Linked DNA regions of Homo sapiens. The gene in region 1 interacts genetically with each later gene. Each region holds a gene or a part of one and is shown on either strand. Other genes may lie near its edges.

What was found. Genes that interact genetically often act in the same process or in processes that back each other up.
Region 2: of SBF1 (region 1) and SUV39H1, a change in one rescues a mutant of the other (synthetic rescue), as found in Homo sapiens cells (one study listed by BioGRID).

What each region holds. Positions count from the first base shown.
Region 1 is NC_000022.11:50,471,985-50,479,453, reverse strand, and holds the start of SBF1 (myotubularin-related protein 5), read left to right. Parts: upstream 1-4,418; 5' UTR 4,419-4,613; coding exon 4,614-4,668; intron 4,669-7,469. UniProt on the Homo sapiens protein: Acts as an adapter for the phosphatase MTMR2 to regulate MTMR2 catalytic activity and subcellular location. Promotes the exchange of GDP to GTP, converting inactive GDP-bound Rab proteins into their active GTP-bound form.
Region 2 is NC_000023.11:48,692,293-48,699,733, forward strand, and holds the start of SUV39H1 (histone-lysine N-methyltransferase SUV39H1), read left to right. Parts: upstream 1-4,441; 5' UTR 4,442-4,492; coding exon 4,493-4,511; intron 4,512-6,609; coding exon 6,610-6,755; intron 6,756-7,441. UniProt on the Homo sapiens protein: Histone methyltransferase that specifically trimethylates 'Lys-9' of histone H3 using monomethylated H3 'Lys-9' as substrate. Also weakly methylates histone H1 (in vitro).

The DNA.
Region 1 (7,469 bases):
TTTGTTTGCTTTTTTGAGATGGAGTCTCACTCTGTCGCCCAGGCTGGAGTGCAGTGGCACAATCTTGGCTCACTGCGACCTCCGCCTCCCAGGTTCAAGTAATTCTCCTGCCTCAGCCTCCCAAGTAGCTGGGGTTACAGGCGCCTGCCACCACACCTGGCTAATTTTTGTATTTTTAGTAGAGACGGGGTTTCACCATGCTGGCCAGGCTGATCTTGAAGTCTGGACCTCAAGCAATCCGCCCACCTCTGCCTCCCAAACTGCTGGGATTACAGGTGTGAGCCACCAAGCCCGGCCAAGTGTCACATTTATGTTGAAAGGTGGAGGGGCAGCCAAGAAGGCAGGTGCTGGGGAGGCAGGCAGAAAGGGCTTGAGGGGACAGAGTGGATGGGTGGGAGAAATTTAGCGGGGCAGGACGGGAAATGAGGGGCTCAGTTCCCGGCGAAGCCCTTCTGTTTGCTGATGTGGCAGCTGCTGAGGGGGTGGGAAGAGGTCGGGGCCTGGACATGCTGAGGCCGAGCTGCCTGGGGGTTGTCCAGGGAGAGGGGTCTGGTCGCTCCCCAGCCTGGCAGGCATGGGACTAAAGATAAGGCAGGTCGAGAACAGTTTTGGGGTTTCAGGGATGGCGCAGCCATGGAGGATATGGTGAGCCTCATCCACAGAGAATGCGGAGAGGCTGGCCAAGGATGGAGCCCAGCGCCAGCTCTGGAGGGGCAGGTAGGGAAGGGCCTGAGCAGGGGATCCCCCAGGTTCCCAAATCTGCTGCTGCGGCTTCTGCTGCTGCCTCCCCACTCGGCCCTCAGCCTTCCACACTGCCACCAGCTCTGTCCTTTCAAAACACAAGTGCAATCAAATCGTTCGCCCCACCAATAAAGAAAAACCAGCAAAAATTCCCTGTCCTCAAGAGGCTTTTTTTTTTTTTTTTTTTTTTTTTTTGAGACGGAGTCTCGCTCTGTCACCCAGGCTGGAGTGCAGTGGTGTGATCTTGACTCACTGCAAGCTCCGCCTCCTGGGTTCACGCCATTCTCCTGCCTCAGCCTCCCAAGTAGCTGGGACTACAAGCGCCCTCCACCATGCCCGGCTAATTTTTCTGTATTTTTAGTAGAGTTTCACCGTGTTAGCCAGGATGGTCTCGATCTCCTGACCTCATGATCCGCCCGCCTTGGCTTCCCAGAGTGCTGGGATTACAGGCGTGAGCCACCGTGCCCAGCCCTCACAAGGTTTTTAATCTGGGACAGGTGGAGGACAGCCCCAGCGAGGGGCTGCGTTTCAGGCCCTGAGATGACAGGACAGTTGCTGCCCCTGTGAGCCACAGTCCTGCCTCCCGCCAGCTTGTGGGGAGGGTGTATCCTCTGCCCTCAGGCATCAGCCTGGCTGCTGCTTCTGCACCTGCCCAGCCCACCAGAGAGGAGGCCCCGTCTGTGATTCCCAGGGTCCCTGGTGCTTGTTGCATGTGAGTCCATTCTTAGTTGGAGAAGCTGCTTCTGGGGAGCGACGGGGCTGCCCCAGCACCGCTTATGATGGACACAGGTGAAGGGGAGACACAAGTTTCCAAATGTGCGAGGGCTGGGCCATAGGAGGGGGCGGTGGCCTTGGGGAATGCTTGTGAGAAGCAAAAGAAGCTAGGGTGGCAACTGGCTGGACAAACAGCATCTTGGGGTTTTTTCCTTTTTTTTTTTGAGATGGGGTTGCGCTCTATCTCCCAGGCTGGAGTGCAGTGGCGTGATCTCGGCTCACTGCAACCTCCGCCTCCCGGGTTCAAGCAACTCTCCTGCCTCAGCTTCCCGAGTAGCTGGGATTACAGGCACGCGTCACCATGCCTGGCTAATTTTTTGTATATTTAGTAGAGACGGGGTTTCACCATGTTGTGCAGGTTGGTCTCAAACTCCTGACGCCAAGTGATCCACCCGCCTGGGCCTCCCAGAGTGCTGGGATTTACAGGCATGAGCCACCACGCCCGGCCTTTGGGGGGTTTTGTTTGAGTGTTTTATGATGGCAGAGGTAAGTTTGACTCTGATAGCAAGGAATCCATAGACAGGGAAGGATGGAGTTTGGCGGCGGGCACTGACAGTGAATGATGGCCTGAGATGAGGAGTGGGCAGGGGGGCAGAGCCCTGTGGTAATGGAGGGAGGGGTGGTGTGAGAGGTGTAAGATGGGGGCTTGGTGCTCCCATCTGATAGCTTCTATTTGCTCTCTGAGGAGCAGCCAATTATCTCAGAGACACTGGAAGTGGGGTGAGAGGTTCGAGGAGAGTGCAGACTGCAAGACAGCTGACCAGAAATCAGCAGGCTGGGCGGTAGGGAGGGGCATCCATCCATCTGAGACACTGAGCCACTGTGGATGGTTGTTCCCAAGGGCCTGGTGGAAGCATGACAGTGGAGAGAGTGCGACGCAGGGTCCCCAGAGTCTCAGAGAGAGTGGAGAGTGCGGTGCAGGGTCCCTAGAGTCTCTCCGAAGAGAGCCAGCCCTGGGCTCAAGCACTAGCCCAGACTTGCCCCGGGCCCCTGCCAGCCTGCACACAAGCTCAGTGGTGTGGTAGTGTGGTGCTGAGGACCTTTTTGGGTACAAGTGACAGAAACCAACTTGAGCCAGCTGGGGCAAAAAGGAGGATTTCTGGCAGGGCACAGTTTCTCACACCTGTAATCCCAACACTTTTTGAGGCAGATGCAGGAGGATCATTTGAGGACAGGAGTTCAAGACAAGCCTAGGTAACTTATCAAGACCCTGTCTCTACAAAAAAATTAAATTTTAAAAAGATGATTTCTCAACCTGTGAAAACCAACAGTGGGAGAGGAGAGGCGTAGCGTGGCCTGTGCCTGAGGGCAGGGAGGGGACCCTGGTGGGGCCTCTCAGTTTGATTCCATTCATTCTCTTGGGCTGGCTCCTGCCCATGGATGGAGACTGGATGCCAGTCATTTGGCCAGTTCTTGCAGCAGCCAAACTCATTTAAAAACAGACCTTCAGGGCCAGGCGCGGTGGCTCACACCTGTAATGCCAGCACTTTGGGAGGCCGAGATGGGCGGATCACGAGGTCAGGAGATCGAGACCATCCTGGCTAACACAGTGAAACCCTGTCGCTACTAAAAATACAAAAAATTAGCTGGGCGTGGTGGCAGGTGCTTGTAGTCCCAGCTACTCGGGAGGCTGAGGCAGGAGAATGATGTGAACCTGGGAGGCGGAGTTTGCAGTGAGCCAAGATCACGCCACTGTACTCCAGCCTGGGCGACAGAGCGAGACTCTGTCTCAAAACAAACAAACAAAAACAAACAAAAAACAAAAAACAGACCTTCGGGCTGGGGGCGGTGGCTCATGCCTGTAATCCCAGCACTTTGGGACGCCATGGTGGGTGGATGGCCTGAGGTCAGGAGTTCAAGACCAGCCTGGCCAACATGGTGAAACCCCCTCTCTACTAAAATACAAAAATTAGCCGGGCATGGTGGTGCACACCTGTAATCCCAGCTACGCGGGAAGCTGAGGCGGGAGAATTGCTTGAACCCAGGAGACGGACGTTCCAGTGAGCCAAGATGGTGTCACTGCACTTCAGCCTGGGTGACGGATTGAGACTCTGCCTCAAAAACAAAACAAAACATAACAAAAAACAGACCTTGGCCTGCTGTGCTCAGAGGGGTTTCCCTGCTGCACCAGGCTGGCTCCTGCACCTTCTCTCCCAGCATGTTCTGCTCTGGGCTCATGCTCATCCCTGAGCCACTTCAGGGGTGGCCCTGGCCAGCCCTGCCCTTGAGAGGGGTGGGCACTGTCAGGGATCCTGGGGGATGCAGCTTTCCCAGAGCCCCCTGCTCCGTGGCCTCATGTGCCTCACACGCTTAGAACATTTGCTCTTTACAGGGGGACATGAGCGTGCCGTTTTTAAGCTGTGTTAAATGTCTCACTTGGCCTAGATGGGGGCTCTTCAGCCTGGGACCCCAAGGGCAGGGCCTGAATTCTCTCTCTGTTCCCCATCGCCAGGCTGGCAGCCCCTGAGGTGATGGCCCTGCGCCTCCTCTGACTTCTAGTTTGGGGGGCCCGGTAGGCAGCGCCTAGGCTTCTCCCGCCTTTCTCCCGCTGGACAGAGAGGGGCGGGGGACGAGGAGTCTGGGGACCCGATCCCCAGATTGGGACGGCCCAGGGGTGGGGTTCGGGCTCCTGTGCGGGGAGTCCCAACGGCGAGGGCAGCTGTGGTCCTGGCCCATGCCTCCCGCCGACACCACAGCCGACCCGGGTCAGGGCGTCAGACCCGCCGGAGCCGTAGTCCAGGTGCCCGGCCCGAGGGGCGGTGCTCGGGCCCCAGAGTGGTCAGCGATGGGCGGGGCGCTGCTCTCGGGAGCCGCCCTCCCACCCTCTGGACCAATGGAGATGCGCGGTTGCAGGCCCCGCCCGCTCAGGGCTTGACGACAGCGCGCAGGCGCACGGCGCGCCCGGGCGGGCCGGCTGGCTGGGAAGATGGCGGCGGGAACCTGGGCCGCCGCCGCCGCCGCCGCCGCCGCCGCGGAGCGAACCAGGGGTGTCCGGGGTGCGCGGTCCAGGGCCGGGGCCGGGCCATGAGCGCGCCGTCCTCGAGTCCCCGAGCCGCGGAGCCCGCCCGCGCCCCTCGGGCCGCCCCGCGTCCCTCGCCATGGCGCGGCTCGCGGACTACTTCGTGCTGGTGGCGTTCGGGCCGCACCCGCGCGGTGAGTGCCGAGGCCAAGCGCTGAGGGCCGGGGGCCGAGGGTCGAGTGCTGAGGGCCAGGGGCTGGGTCTGAGGGTCGAGGGCCGGGGGCTGGGGGCCGAGGGCTGGGGGCTGGGTCGGGAGGCCGAGGACTGAGGGCCGGGCGCTGAGGGCCGAGGACCGGGGGCTGGGCGCTGAGGGCCGGGGTCGGGGGAGCCGAGGACTGAGGGCCGGGGCCGGGGGCCGGGCGGGGACTGAAGGCCAGGGCCGACCGGACAGCCCGTGGGGAGAATGGGCGTCCGCTGGGGGCGGCGTGGCCGCGCGGGCCTGGTGGCGGCAGGGAGAGAAGGCTGGGCCCGGCCTGCCCGGCCTCCTTGGGGTGGGACGGGCTCTCTCCTTGGCCAGCTGCGGGCGGCTGTGGCTCTAGTGGCTCCAGGGGCGCGGACCCGCGGCTCGCCAGCCCGCCTCTGACCTTGGTGCTCCGTCTGAAGCCCCCGGCGGTCTTGGCGGGGTGCAAAGAGGGGGTGGAGTTCGGGTTTGGTGCATGGAGAAGCGGTGTTTGATTTGAAACTGGGAGGATTTGAGGAGGAAGCGTCGAGAGTAGAGAGAAGAGCATTCCTGGCGACTCGCCTGACGGTCCAGGCCCTGCACGCCAAGCCCTGGGTGGGGTATCAGCGTGGCGGTCGGTGCCCATGCCCAGGAGGTCTGTGTGTGGGGTCAGCGCCCGTGTCTGAGAGCTCTTCAGCCCAGGAGGTAGGAGAAAACGGAGCCTGACGATGACATCAGCAACAGCCTGGAGACAGCAGCGTTGGCGAGCGTGCTTGGTGTGCCAGGCCCCGCACAGCCCTTTGTGTACATGATCTCACCTCTTCCTCCCAGCAGCCCACCGGGGTTGCCCTGGTGTTGCCCCCATCTGTAGAGAAGTTAGGCGCGGATAAGCTGACTGCCTGGCCTGAGCCGGCTCAGAGAGGCTGGGACTGGCACTCAGGCTGTCAGATCCCAGCTGCAGACTGGCAGTGTGTGGGGATGGCTGTGTGGTCAGGCAGGGGCTGGATCTTGAGCCTGGAGGTGGGATTGAGCTTGCCTTCCCAGTTACCCTGTTTTTTGTCAGTCCAGTTGTCACTGTCCCCACCAAGGACCTGGAGTTCTCTCTTTTTTGTGTTTCTTCTGCTGGACACCCCCCTACACTTCCTGAAGCCTCTTTAGCATCTTCTTCGTCTCCAGCCCCTCCTCAGTGCCCTCTTACTCAGCACACACTCCTCTCTGCTCATGTCTATCCAAGTGTGTGTCTTATGGCACCGTCAGTCATGAGCATCTGTCTTTTTCTTTAGAGAGGGAGTTCTCGCTTGCTAGGACCACATAGTCCTCATCCCCACTGTGCAGGTTGGCTGTCAATGTTGTCTTGACCCACAGAGGGAGCTGTCTGCACCGAGGCACCTATGAGGGGCATGGAGGAGGCCTTACCACCTGGGGCAGAGGGTGCCTGAGGATCCAGGGAAGCAAGGCTGGCTGAGGGCTGTCTTGGCGTGAGGGGCCTTGGGCTGAGGGCTGGGGCGGGGGCTACAGGAACAGCTGATAATGACCCTGATGATCCTGAGGGCAGTGTGGAGAGGGTTTGGGTTGGTAGAGACTGCAGGCAAAGGCCAGGTGGGAGGCGTGGTGGCCGTGGGGTGAGGAGTTGAAGGTAGGCAGAGAGAAGAGGCAGAGTGGGCTCCACAACAAGCTGGCTGTGACGTGTGTGCTCACTGCTGGAGCCACACGTAGTGCAGGCACCTGTTTGTGTGTGTCCTTTGCGCAGGACAGGGTAGAAGGCTGGAGCCCAAGGTGCCCCCCCTTCCCCTAAGTGACCGGAAGGAGTGATAAGTGGTCCACTGCAGTAGGGTTGGAGGACCGTGGAGCCCTGTACCCACTACCTTCTGGGGTTGAGCTGGTCAGCTGCTTGCTGGCCTTGCAGCCCCAGGCACCCCTTAGAAGGACTTGTTCATTCTTGAGGGGAACAAGGCTATAGACTGGGACCCTGGTCATGGGCTGAGGGCAGAGCCAGGTACCAGGGCCGGTGGGAGCTGGGGGAAGAAGCAGAGGAGTGTGGCGTGGGGGTCACTTGTCTCTGCTTTGCCCCTTGATAGCCTTGTGACTTCGAGCCAGTTGTTTGGCTCTCTGTGCCTCAGTTTCCTCATCTGGGGATGGAGTGAGTCATGCTAACCTCCCAGGCTGCCGTGAGGATGCAGCGAATGCACAGGTGTGAAGCAGTAGCACACAGGAGGCCCTGGAAATGATGAGTTTCTTTCATTAGTGACTGAGCAGCAGGTGTGTGAACTCTCTAGGCACAGACACAACAGGCACTTCTGAGTGGGTAGAGGATCCTCTCTGTTCTGTCAGGCTAGGACTTCAGGGCGGGATGCAGGGTCTCTTGGGTTGGGGATTAGGATTGGCGGATAGCTTGTCTTGGCCTGGATCTGGACATCCTGTCTGGAGCTGCTGGGTGCAGCACCAGGGTGCTGAGGGTGCATGAGTCCTGCCTGAGGCAGCATCCCAGTTGCTAGTGGTTACCAGCTGGAAACCTCTCAGGAAAGGTGGGGAGGGGCCCTGAGAAGGTAAATGCCTGTGCTGGCCGTGACCCTTTCACCTCAGAGAGTGATGGTGGCCAGCGCTGGCCCATCTGCAGGCCCCTCACCTGGTGAGTCAGGGATCACCTTCTGTGCTCTGGGGCAGGCATCAGGACTAGACAGACTGCCTCTGCCCGGCTCTTGGCCTGATCACAGCGTGGCCAGTGCTGAGGTGTCTTTGAGAACAGGAGACACATTTGATCTGGCCCTGACCTGG
Region 2 (7,441 bases), on another chromosome or scaffold:
CCGTCTCAAAAAAAAAAAATCATTCAATCAACACAATACTAGATTAAGAGCAGCATACTCAATGAGCAGACCTCCCCATTCTCCATGCCCATAACAACTCACACACCAGGATCTTGATGGGCAGGATCCCCCTCTCATTTTTAAAATTTGGCTCTGCCCAGTTCCCAGTTCAAATCAAGCACTGGCCAATTGCAATGGAAAAGGCAAAGACTTAATTATCAGACAGATCTGCTCTAGAACCCGGGAAAGATGCCTCACCTCTGAGCTTTGGTTTCCGCATCTATACAATGGAGGTAACTGATTTCCAACGGGGATCCCACTGAGTCACCTCTCTGCCTCCTCAGGACTTGCTCTCCCAGAAACAAAGGAGTAACTCAAAAGCGTCCTTGGCGTTTACAGCTATTTCCAAGGGCATAATTAGAAACTGTTGCACAGCAAAGCCTAGAATTGAGCTCCCTGCCCCTTCCGATTTCTGAAATCTGGTGAATTCGAGATCTCAGACATCCTACCTTTAGAGGAGGAGAAAAAGAGAAAGGTAGTGGGGAGGAAGATAAAGGTGAGGGAGACTCCAGAGAGGGCAGGCTTCTTCAGTCTGCAAGAGCAACGGAAGAATTTCTAGGTGGAAAGGGGAACTCCCCCAAGCTAGAGAAGGAGGGAGTCTCAGGTTTCCTTTAATTCATTATTCTTTACACCGCAACACCACTCCCCACCCCACCCTGACCAGGTCCCCAGATGGGCACTGAGTCTAGGAAGGATCCATCAGCATCATTTATCCCTACTCCCAGTCCCCCACAGAAATCTTAGAAATCCAGTGTTCTGGTTGGCCGGGCGCGGTGGCTCACGCCTGTAATCCCAGCACTTCGGGAGGCCGAGATGGGCGGATCATGAAGTCAAGAAATAGAGACCATCCTGGCTAACATGGTGAAACCTCATCTCTACTAAAAATACAAAAAATTAGCCGGGCGTGGTGGCACATGCCTGTAGTCCCAGCTACTCAGGAGGCTGAGACAGGGGAATTGCTTGAACCCGAGAGGCAGAGTTGTGGTGAGCTGAGATCACGCTACTACACTCCAGCCTGGGCAACAGAGCGAGACTCCGTCTCAAAAAAAAAATGTGGTATACACAATGGAATACTATTCGGCCATAAAAAACAATGAAATCATGTCTTTTGCAGCAACATGAATGAAACTGAAGGCCATTAATTTGAGTGAAACAACTCAGAAACAGAAAGACAAATACTGAATCTTTTCACTTGTAAGTGGGAGCTAAATAATGTGTACACATGGACATAGCATGTGGAATTATAAACAACAGAAACTTGGAAGGGTGGGGAGGTGGGAAGGAAGTAGATGATGAGGAAATTACTTAACGAGTACAATGTGCATTATTCAGGCTATGGATACAGTAAAATGCCTGACTTCACCACTACACAATGTATCCGTGTAACAAAATTACACTTGTGGCCTGGCACTGTGGCTCATGCCTGCAATCCCAGCACTTTGGGAGGCCAATGCACATTATTCAGTTGATGGATACAGTAAAATGCCTGACTTCACCACTACACAACGTATCCATGTAAAAAAATTACACTTGTGGCCTGGCGCTGTGGCTCATGCCTGTAATCCTAGCACTTTGGGAGGCCAATGTACATTATTCAGATGATGGATACAGTAAAATGCCTGACTTCACCACTACACAATGTATCTGTGTAACAAAATTACACTTGTGGCCTGGCATGGTGGCTCATGTCTGTAATCCGAGCACTTTGGGAGACCAAGGCAGGTGGATCACTGGAGGCCAGGAGTTTGAGACCTGCCTGGCCAACGTGGTGAAACCCCATCATCTCTACTAAAAATACAAAAATTAGCCAGGTGTGGTGGCACACGCCTGTAATCCCACCTACTCAGGAGGCAGAGGCAGGAAAATCGCTTGAACCCGGGAGGCAGAGGTTGCAGTGAACCGAAATCACGCCACTGCACTCCAGCCTGGGTGACAGAGTGAGACTCTGTCTCAAAAAAAAAATATTATATTTGTACCCAATAAATTTATATGAAACAATTAAATGCTTCTGAGATCTGGCTTAATGGTTGCTCAGCCTGCATTCTGGTTCCACATGTAGGTCTGCTTGTGAAAACTCATTACAGTGTTCACCCCTGGTCTGTGTACCCTTCTGTATTTGTGTTACACTCCAATCTGAGGTTTACATTACAATAGGTCAAACCTGTGAATAAAACCTTATATTGGCTCCGGCACTGGGCAACGCAGTAATCATTAAATTAATGCTGAATGAACAGACAACTGGCTGGGAGTGGGACACGGTAGCAATAAGATGGCCTCTTAACTTTTGAGGTCTCCTGAAAAAGTGCTAGTCCAGAATGATTCACTTTCCAGATGAGCAGGAGACACCCACCCCAAGGTCACTTACTGCAGGTTTTACAGACCAGTTTAAGAAACTGCCTAAGATCAAGTAATTTAGTAAATGGCAGAGCCTGGATATGAGTCCAGGTAGTCAGGCTCCAGAATCCAGACTTTTGCCCACTACTTTATAGTGTTTGGGGGCACTACTGGCGACAGACCCTTTTGTCTCCCTCTCAGATCCAGACAGGCAGAGGTCCTGTCTTAAATCACTCTTGTGGGTTGGACAGGTCTCCTGGACACCCGGGAGTGGGAGAGCCCTGCTGCCCGAGGAGACTGGGGGTACATGAGGATGAGCACCTGACTCTGCTCGAGAAGGAGTAAGGGAGGGAAGGGGATGCATGGTGGGACCTTCGCTCCTGTCTGTCCCCTCAGGGCAAGCTGGGGCTGACGGAACCTCAGACCAGCCAGTCACTTCTTAATGAGCTCACAGCTGGACTGGCAGGCAGACAGAATATCCGTTTGGTTAACTGTATAACTGTTTGGTTGACTACAGAACTCATGGAGTGACAGGGAGAAGGCGCAACTTGAGGACGTGACAGCGCAGTTTCCTGAACATCTAACTGAATGACAGCCTGCCTAGGACTGGCTGGGGCTGGTAGCCTGACAGTGGAAAAGACAGGCAGCCTCCTGAGGACCTTGCAGGCTGGCTGACTGATGGCCCGTGGTGCTACTGCCTGCCTGGGTGGCCGGATGTTGTGAATGACTATTGTCAGGAATCACAGCTGGCGGGGGAATGTCTAGATGTTATACTGTCTGGCACCGTGTAAAGGAGGGCCACCTGGGGAAACTTCAGGCTAACTGATCAACAGACCCGTGGCTGCTTGCTAGGCAGCTGTATCTGGTGATCAACTATCCACGCTGCTCGAATCACAGCATGCTGGAGGGCCTGGCTGGGTGCTCTGACTGACTGATCACCTGACAGACGGTGCGGTCAGTCGGATGCTGAGAATGACTGACGATGTGATGAGGGGCGGATTGAACGAGTCACAGGCCAGCTGGCCAGGAGCAAAATCGGCATAGCTGTCTGACTCGATGGCTGTACGTGGTTACGGACTGTCTGCCCTGATAGAATCTCAGCTTCAACGCATCAGAGGAGACTGACTTGACCAATGGTGGGGATGAGTCGCCTGAGAAATGACAGACTGGCTGACCCACTGACAGGTGGTGTGGAGGCTTAATCCTACCTCTAGTTGCTGTGACTATTTGCTTTGAGGGCCTAGCTGGATGTTGTGACTGATCGTGGTGTGAATGAGAAGTAATCTGAGGGAAAGACAGTGACCAACTGATAGTGCCCGACAGGGCTGTATTAGATGCTGACAGTGACAGCTTGTCCCGACCTAATCACAGCCCGCCTGGGGGCATGGCTGGATGCTGCAGTCTATGAGAGGATTTAGCCAGGGAGAATCGCAGCTGGTCCCAGGGCTATGGTGGGTGGAGAGGAGGACTGATTGATCTGCTGACAACGTGAGGACAGGATGGTCTTAGGGAATGATAAGGCAGGCTGGCTAACAGTGCTGTCTGCCTGCCTCCAGGGAGTCGCCGCTGGCCAGGGCACAAATGGAAGCCAGTATTGACTGCCCAGCAGTGTGGATGGGGGCCGGGAGTCTGACTAGGCACCTGTCTGGGGCGACCGCCTGAGCAGTTGGATACGGCACTAGTCCACCTGGGAGCCCCGGCCTGCTTGGGGTTAAAATGAGATGACGGGCTGACTGACGGTGATAACAGGGAGTATGACAGGACTGAGGAACCACTGCGACTGGCTGATAACGTGATTGGCTAGCAGTGTGACAGACAGACCAGCGCACGGGCAGGGCCTCTGGCAACTTTAGCTACCGCCGCTGTCGCTCCCGCTGCCGCCGCCGCCCAGACGCACTCTGGGAAAGCGCGGCGAGCACCCGCCTCCGGGACCGAGCCGGGCGGCAGGGAGGGGTTCGGTCACGGCTCTCCGGTTGGTCCGCGCGGGTGCTGCGAGTCGGGAGCCGCGGCCAATAGGCTGCGCGTTCCCGGCCACGCCCGCGCGAGCGCTCTTCTCGCGAGGCCGGCTAGGCCCGAATGTCGTTAGCCGTGGGGAAAGATGGCGGAAAATTTAAAAGGTGAAGCAGTGGAGGCAGAGGCGCGGGCCCGCTGGCCGGGCCGGGTGGGCTGGAGGGGTGGCGTTGCCGGCTCGGGGCCCCGGCGTCCGAGGCCCCGGCGCCGGGAGCCGGAAGCTCGGCGCGGAAAGGATGAGGCTCGGGGAGCGCGGGCCTGGTGCGCGGGGCTGGGCGGGGCTCAGGGGAGGGGGCGCGCGCCTCGGAACGCAGCGGGCCTGGGGCTAAGTGGGGACGCAGGAGGGGGGCGCGCGCTGCAGATCGCGGCCGGACCGGCGCGCGCACGCGCGGGGGCTTGTCGAGGAGGCCGCGCCCGCGCGCGGGAAAATCGGCCCCTGGTGACCGTTACCCATTCGGTGTCCACGCGAGACGCCGGAAGGGGAGGGAAGATAAGGGGGACAGACCCCCCCTTCAGAGTGCGGGGACTGAGAACTCTTCTGGGGGAAAGTATCGCCTCTCGGCGTGATGGGGGAAGGGTTTGGAATAGAGGATCTCCCAGAAGAGAGAAATGGGGCCTTCCTAATAGGACAGCTGGACTCCCCCATGTGCAGGGAAAGAGGGGTGACTCAGTTATGTTGGGGGGCCCCTCTATGTGACGAAAGCCGCAGGGAGGATGGGTTCCACAAGTGGGAGGACCTCTGAGGGGTTCAGGAGAGTCCACCTGTGGCCAGTTCCGGAGCCAGCAGCTGGAGGGTGTTAATTGGGACCACTTAAGTGGGGTTTCAAATGCAAGTGAAGGAAGGGGTTTGCGAGGACAGGCTGTAGGGAGAGGAAAGCGTGGGCACAGGCGGGCTCAGTCTCCACTTGGTCTTGCCTAAGTAGGGGGGGTAGGGCTTGCACACGAAATAATTTTGAAAAGCTCTTGTACGTTTTTAGGTTGACATCTAAAGTTTAGGTGTGATTTTTGCAATGGGAGGCAGAAAATATTAAACATTTTAAAAAGATGATATAGGATGAGGACTGACTGCCCTTGGAATGTTTTGAGACATGATTTGATAAAATGGCTTCTAAAGTACTTTGATTAAGAATGTGCCTTGAATCAGAAAGAAATCTGTTTTTTAAAATCCGTGTGTCTTACAAAATTTTGGCAGTCCCAGAAATATACCAGGTATATTTAAAAGAATCAGTGTCACTAATCTGTACCGCTTTGCGTATAAATTCAGAGCATAACCCTTTGGATGAGCTTTACTCTTCACAGAAAGATGGATGAGACAGAAAGTCAAAATGCAGTGTGAAAAAATATACCTTGTGGATTTAAGGCACCCAGATTGATCATTTAAGGAGCCTTCCTGTAATGTAGTATCATTCCACAATCTCTTGCTCATAATTCCGAAATCTAAAAAGCCCTGAAAACTGAAATCCTTTTCTTAAATTTGGCACCATTTATGGCAAAAGTAGATTATAAAGTGGAACTCTTCTGTGAGGCTATTTTATATCTCTATTTCTCCTATTTAATGTGGGAAATTCATACTTTTGCTGCAGGACGGTTAATGCATTTGATTATAGCTTGATGTCCCCTGGCCACGCTGGGGGTGTTAGGTGATGTATGGGATATCCTAGAACTAGTCTTGTAAAATCCAAAAAATTTTGAATTCCAAAACACATCTGGCCCAGGAGTTTGAGATAAGGGATTAAAGACCAGTCTTTCCAGTTACGCCTTTGTTTGGTGCCCTGGAGGTTTTAATCTTGTCCTCCCATCCGCCCCACCTCGGGGCACTGCATCCTACTGAGATGGGGGGTTGTTCTCTTTCTTTTGCAAAGTGGAGAGAGGGGTGATCAGGTCCTGAACCCAAAGCAGGTTTGCAGGCAGTTTTAGGAATGACATGGAGTTTGAAGCTCTGGAAATAGATTCCTTTAGGACAATTCATGTTGCAAACCCCGCTTAGAGGTCTGCTGCTCCAGGGGCAGCTTTGGGCAGTGAGTATTGGGGTTCAAAGCACATTTCTGTTGTAGAACAGTCTCAGCACTGGGGAAGGCCTGTGGATTAAATTTCCCTGACTCTTAGTCAGTCTTTGGGATGTCCCAGGGAGGATTTGGGGTCCCCTTTGACTCCTGGCCTAGTCAGGCTGCCCAGTAATAGTTCTTTCTGCCCCGCTTGATCCAGGCTGCAGCGTGTGTTGCAAGTCTTCTTGGAATCAGCTGCAGGACCTGTGCCGCCTGGCCAAGCTCTCCTGCCCTGCCCTCGGTATCTCTAAGAGGAACCTCTATGACTTTGAAGTCGAGTACCTGTGCGATTACAAGAAGATCCGCGTGAGTCTGGGGTGACCATGCTCTGGGAGGGGACAGGTCACAAGGAAGTTAGTGTCCTGCCCTCTTGTCCCCAACTGCCCACATCTGTTTCCAAAGGGAATTTTCTCCTTTGACCCTGAAAACACAGGATGAATAGACCCTTTTATCCCTATGTTACAGATAGGGAAACTAAGTAGCTTTCTGGGCAGGAGCCGGAATGAATTCCCAAATAAATCTCTTCCCATCTCCCTAGGAATACAAAGTAATTGCAGAGATTGAGATGCTGAACCCTGGAGTGGAAATGTCAATAGCTAATGGCTATTGAGCACTTTCAGTGTGCCAGGCGTTTCCTCTCGGAAACTCATTTAATCCCCTAACAACTGAAATGGGGATAGTTATTGCCAGAAGGGGGAGTGGCAGGATGGTTAGGAGAACAAACTGGAGTCAGCATGCTTGGGTTCCAGTCCTGGTTGTGTTACCCCAGGCTACCTACCCAAACCTTCAGTACTTCATTTTCCTTGTCGTAAAAGAGGGATAACTAGGAGCATCTACCTCATGTGGGGTTGTGAGGATTAAGTTAGTTAATAATACATGTAAGCTGCCTAGAACAGGCAAGGACTTGTCAGGGTCCAGGTGAGCCAGGGTGGTGGCAGTGATGATGGTTTGTCACTGGACGTATTTTGAAGGTGGGGCCAACGGGATGTGCA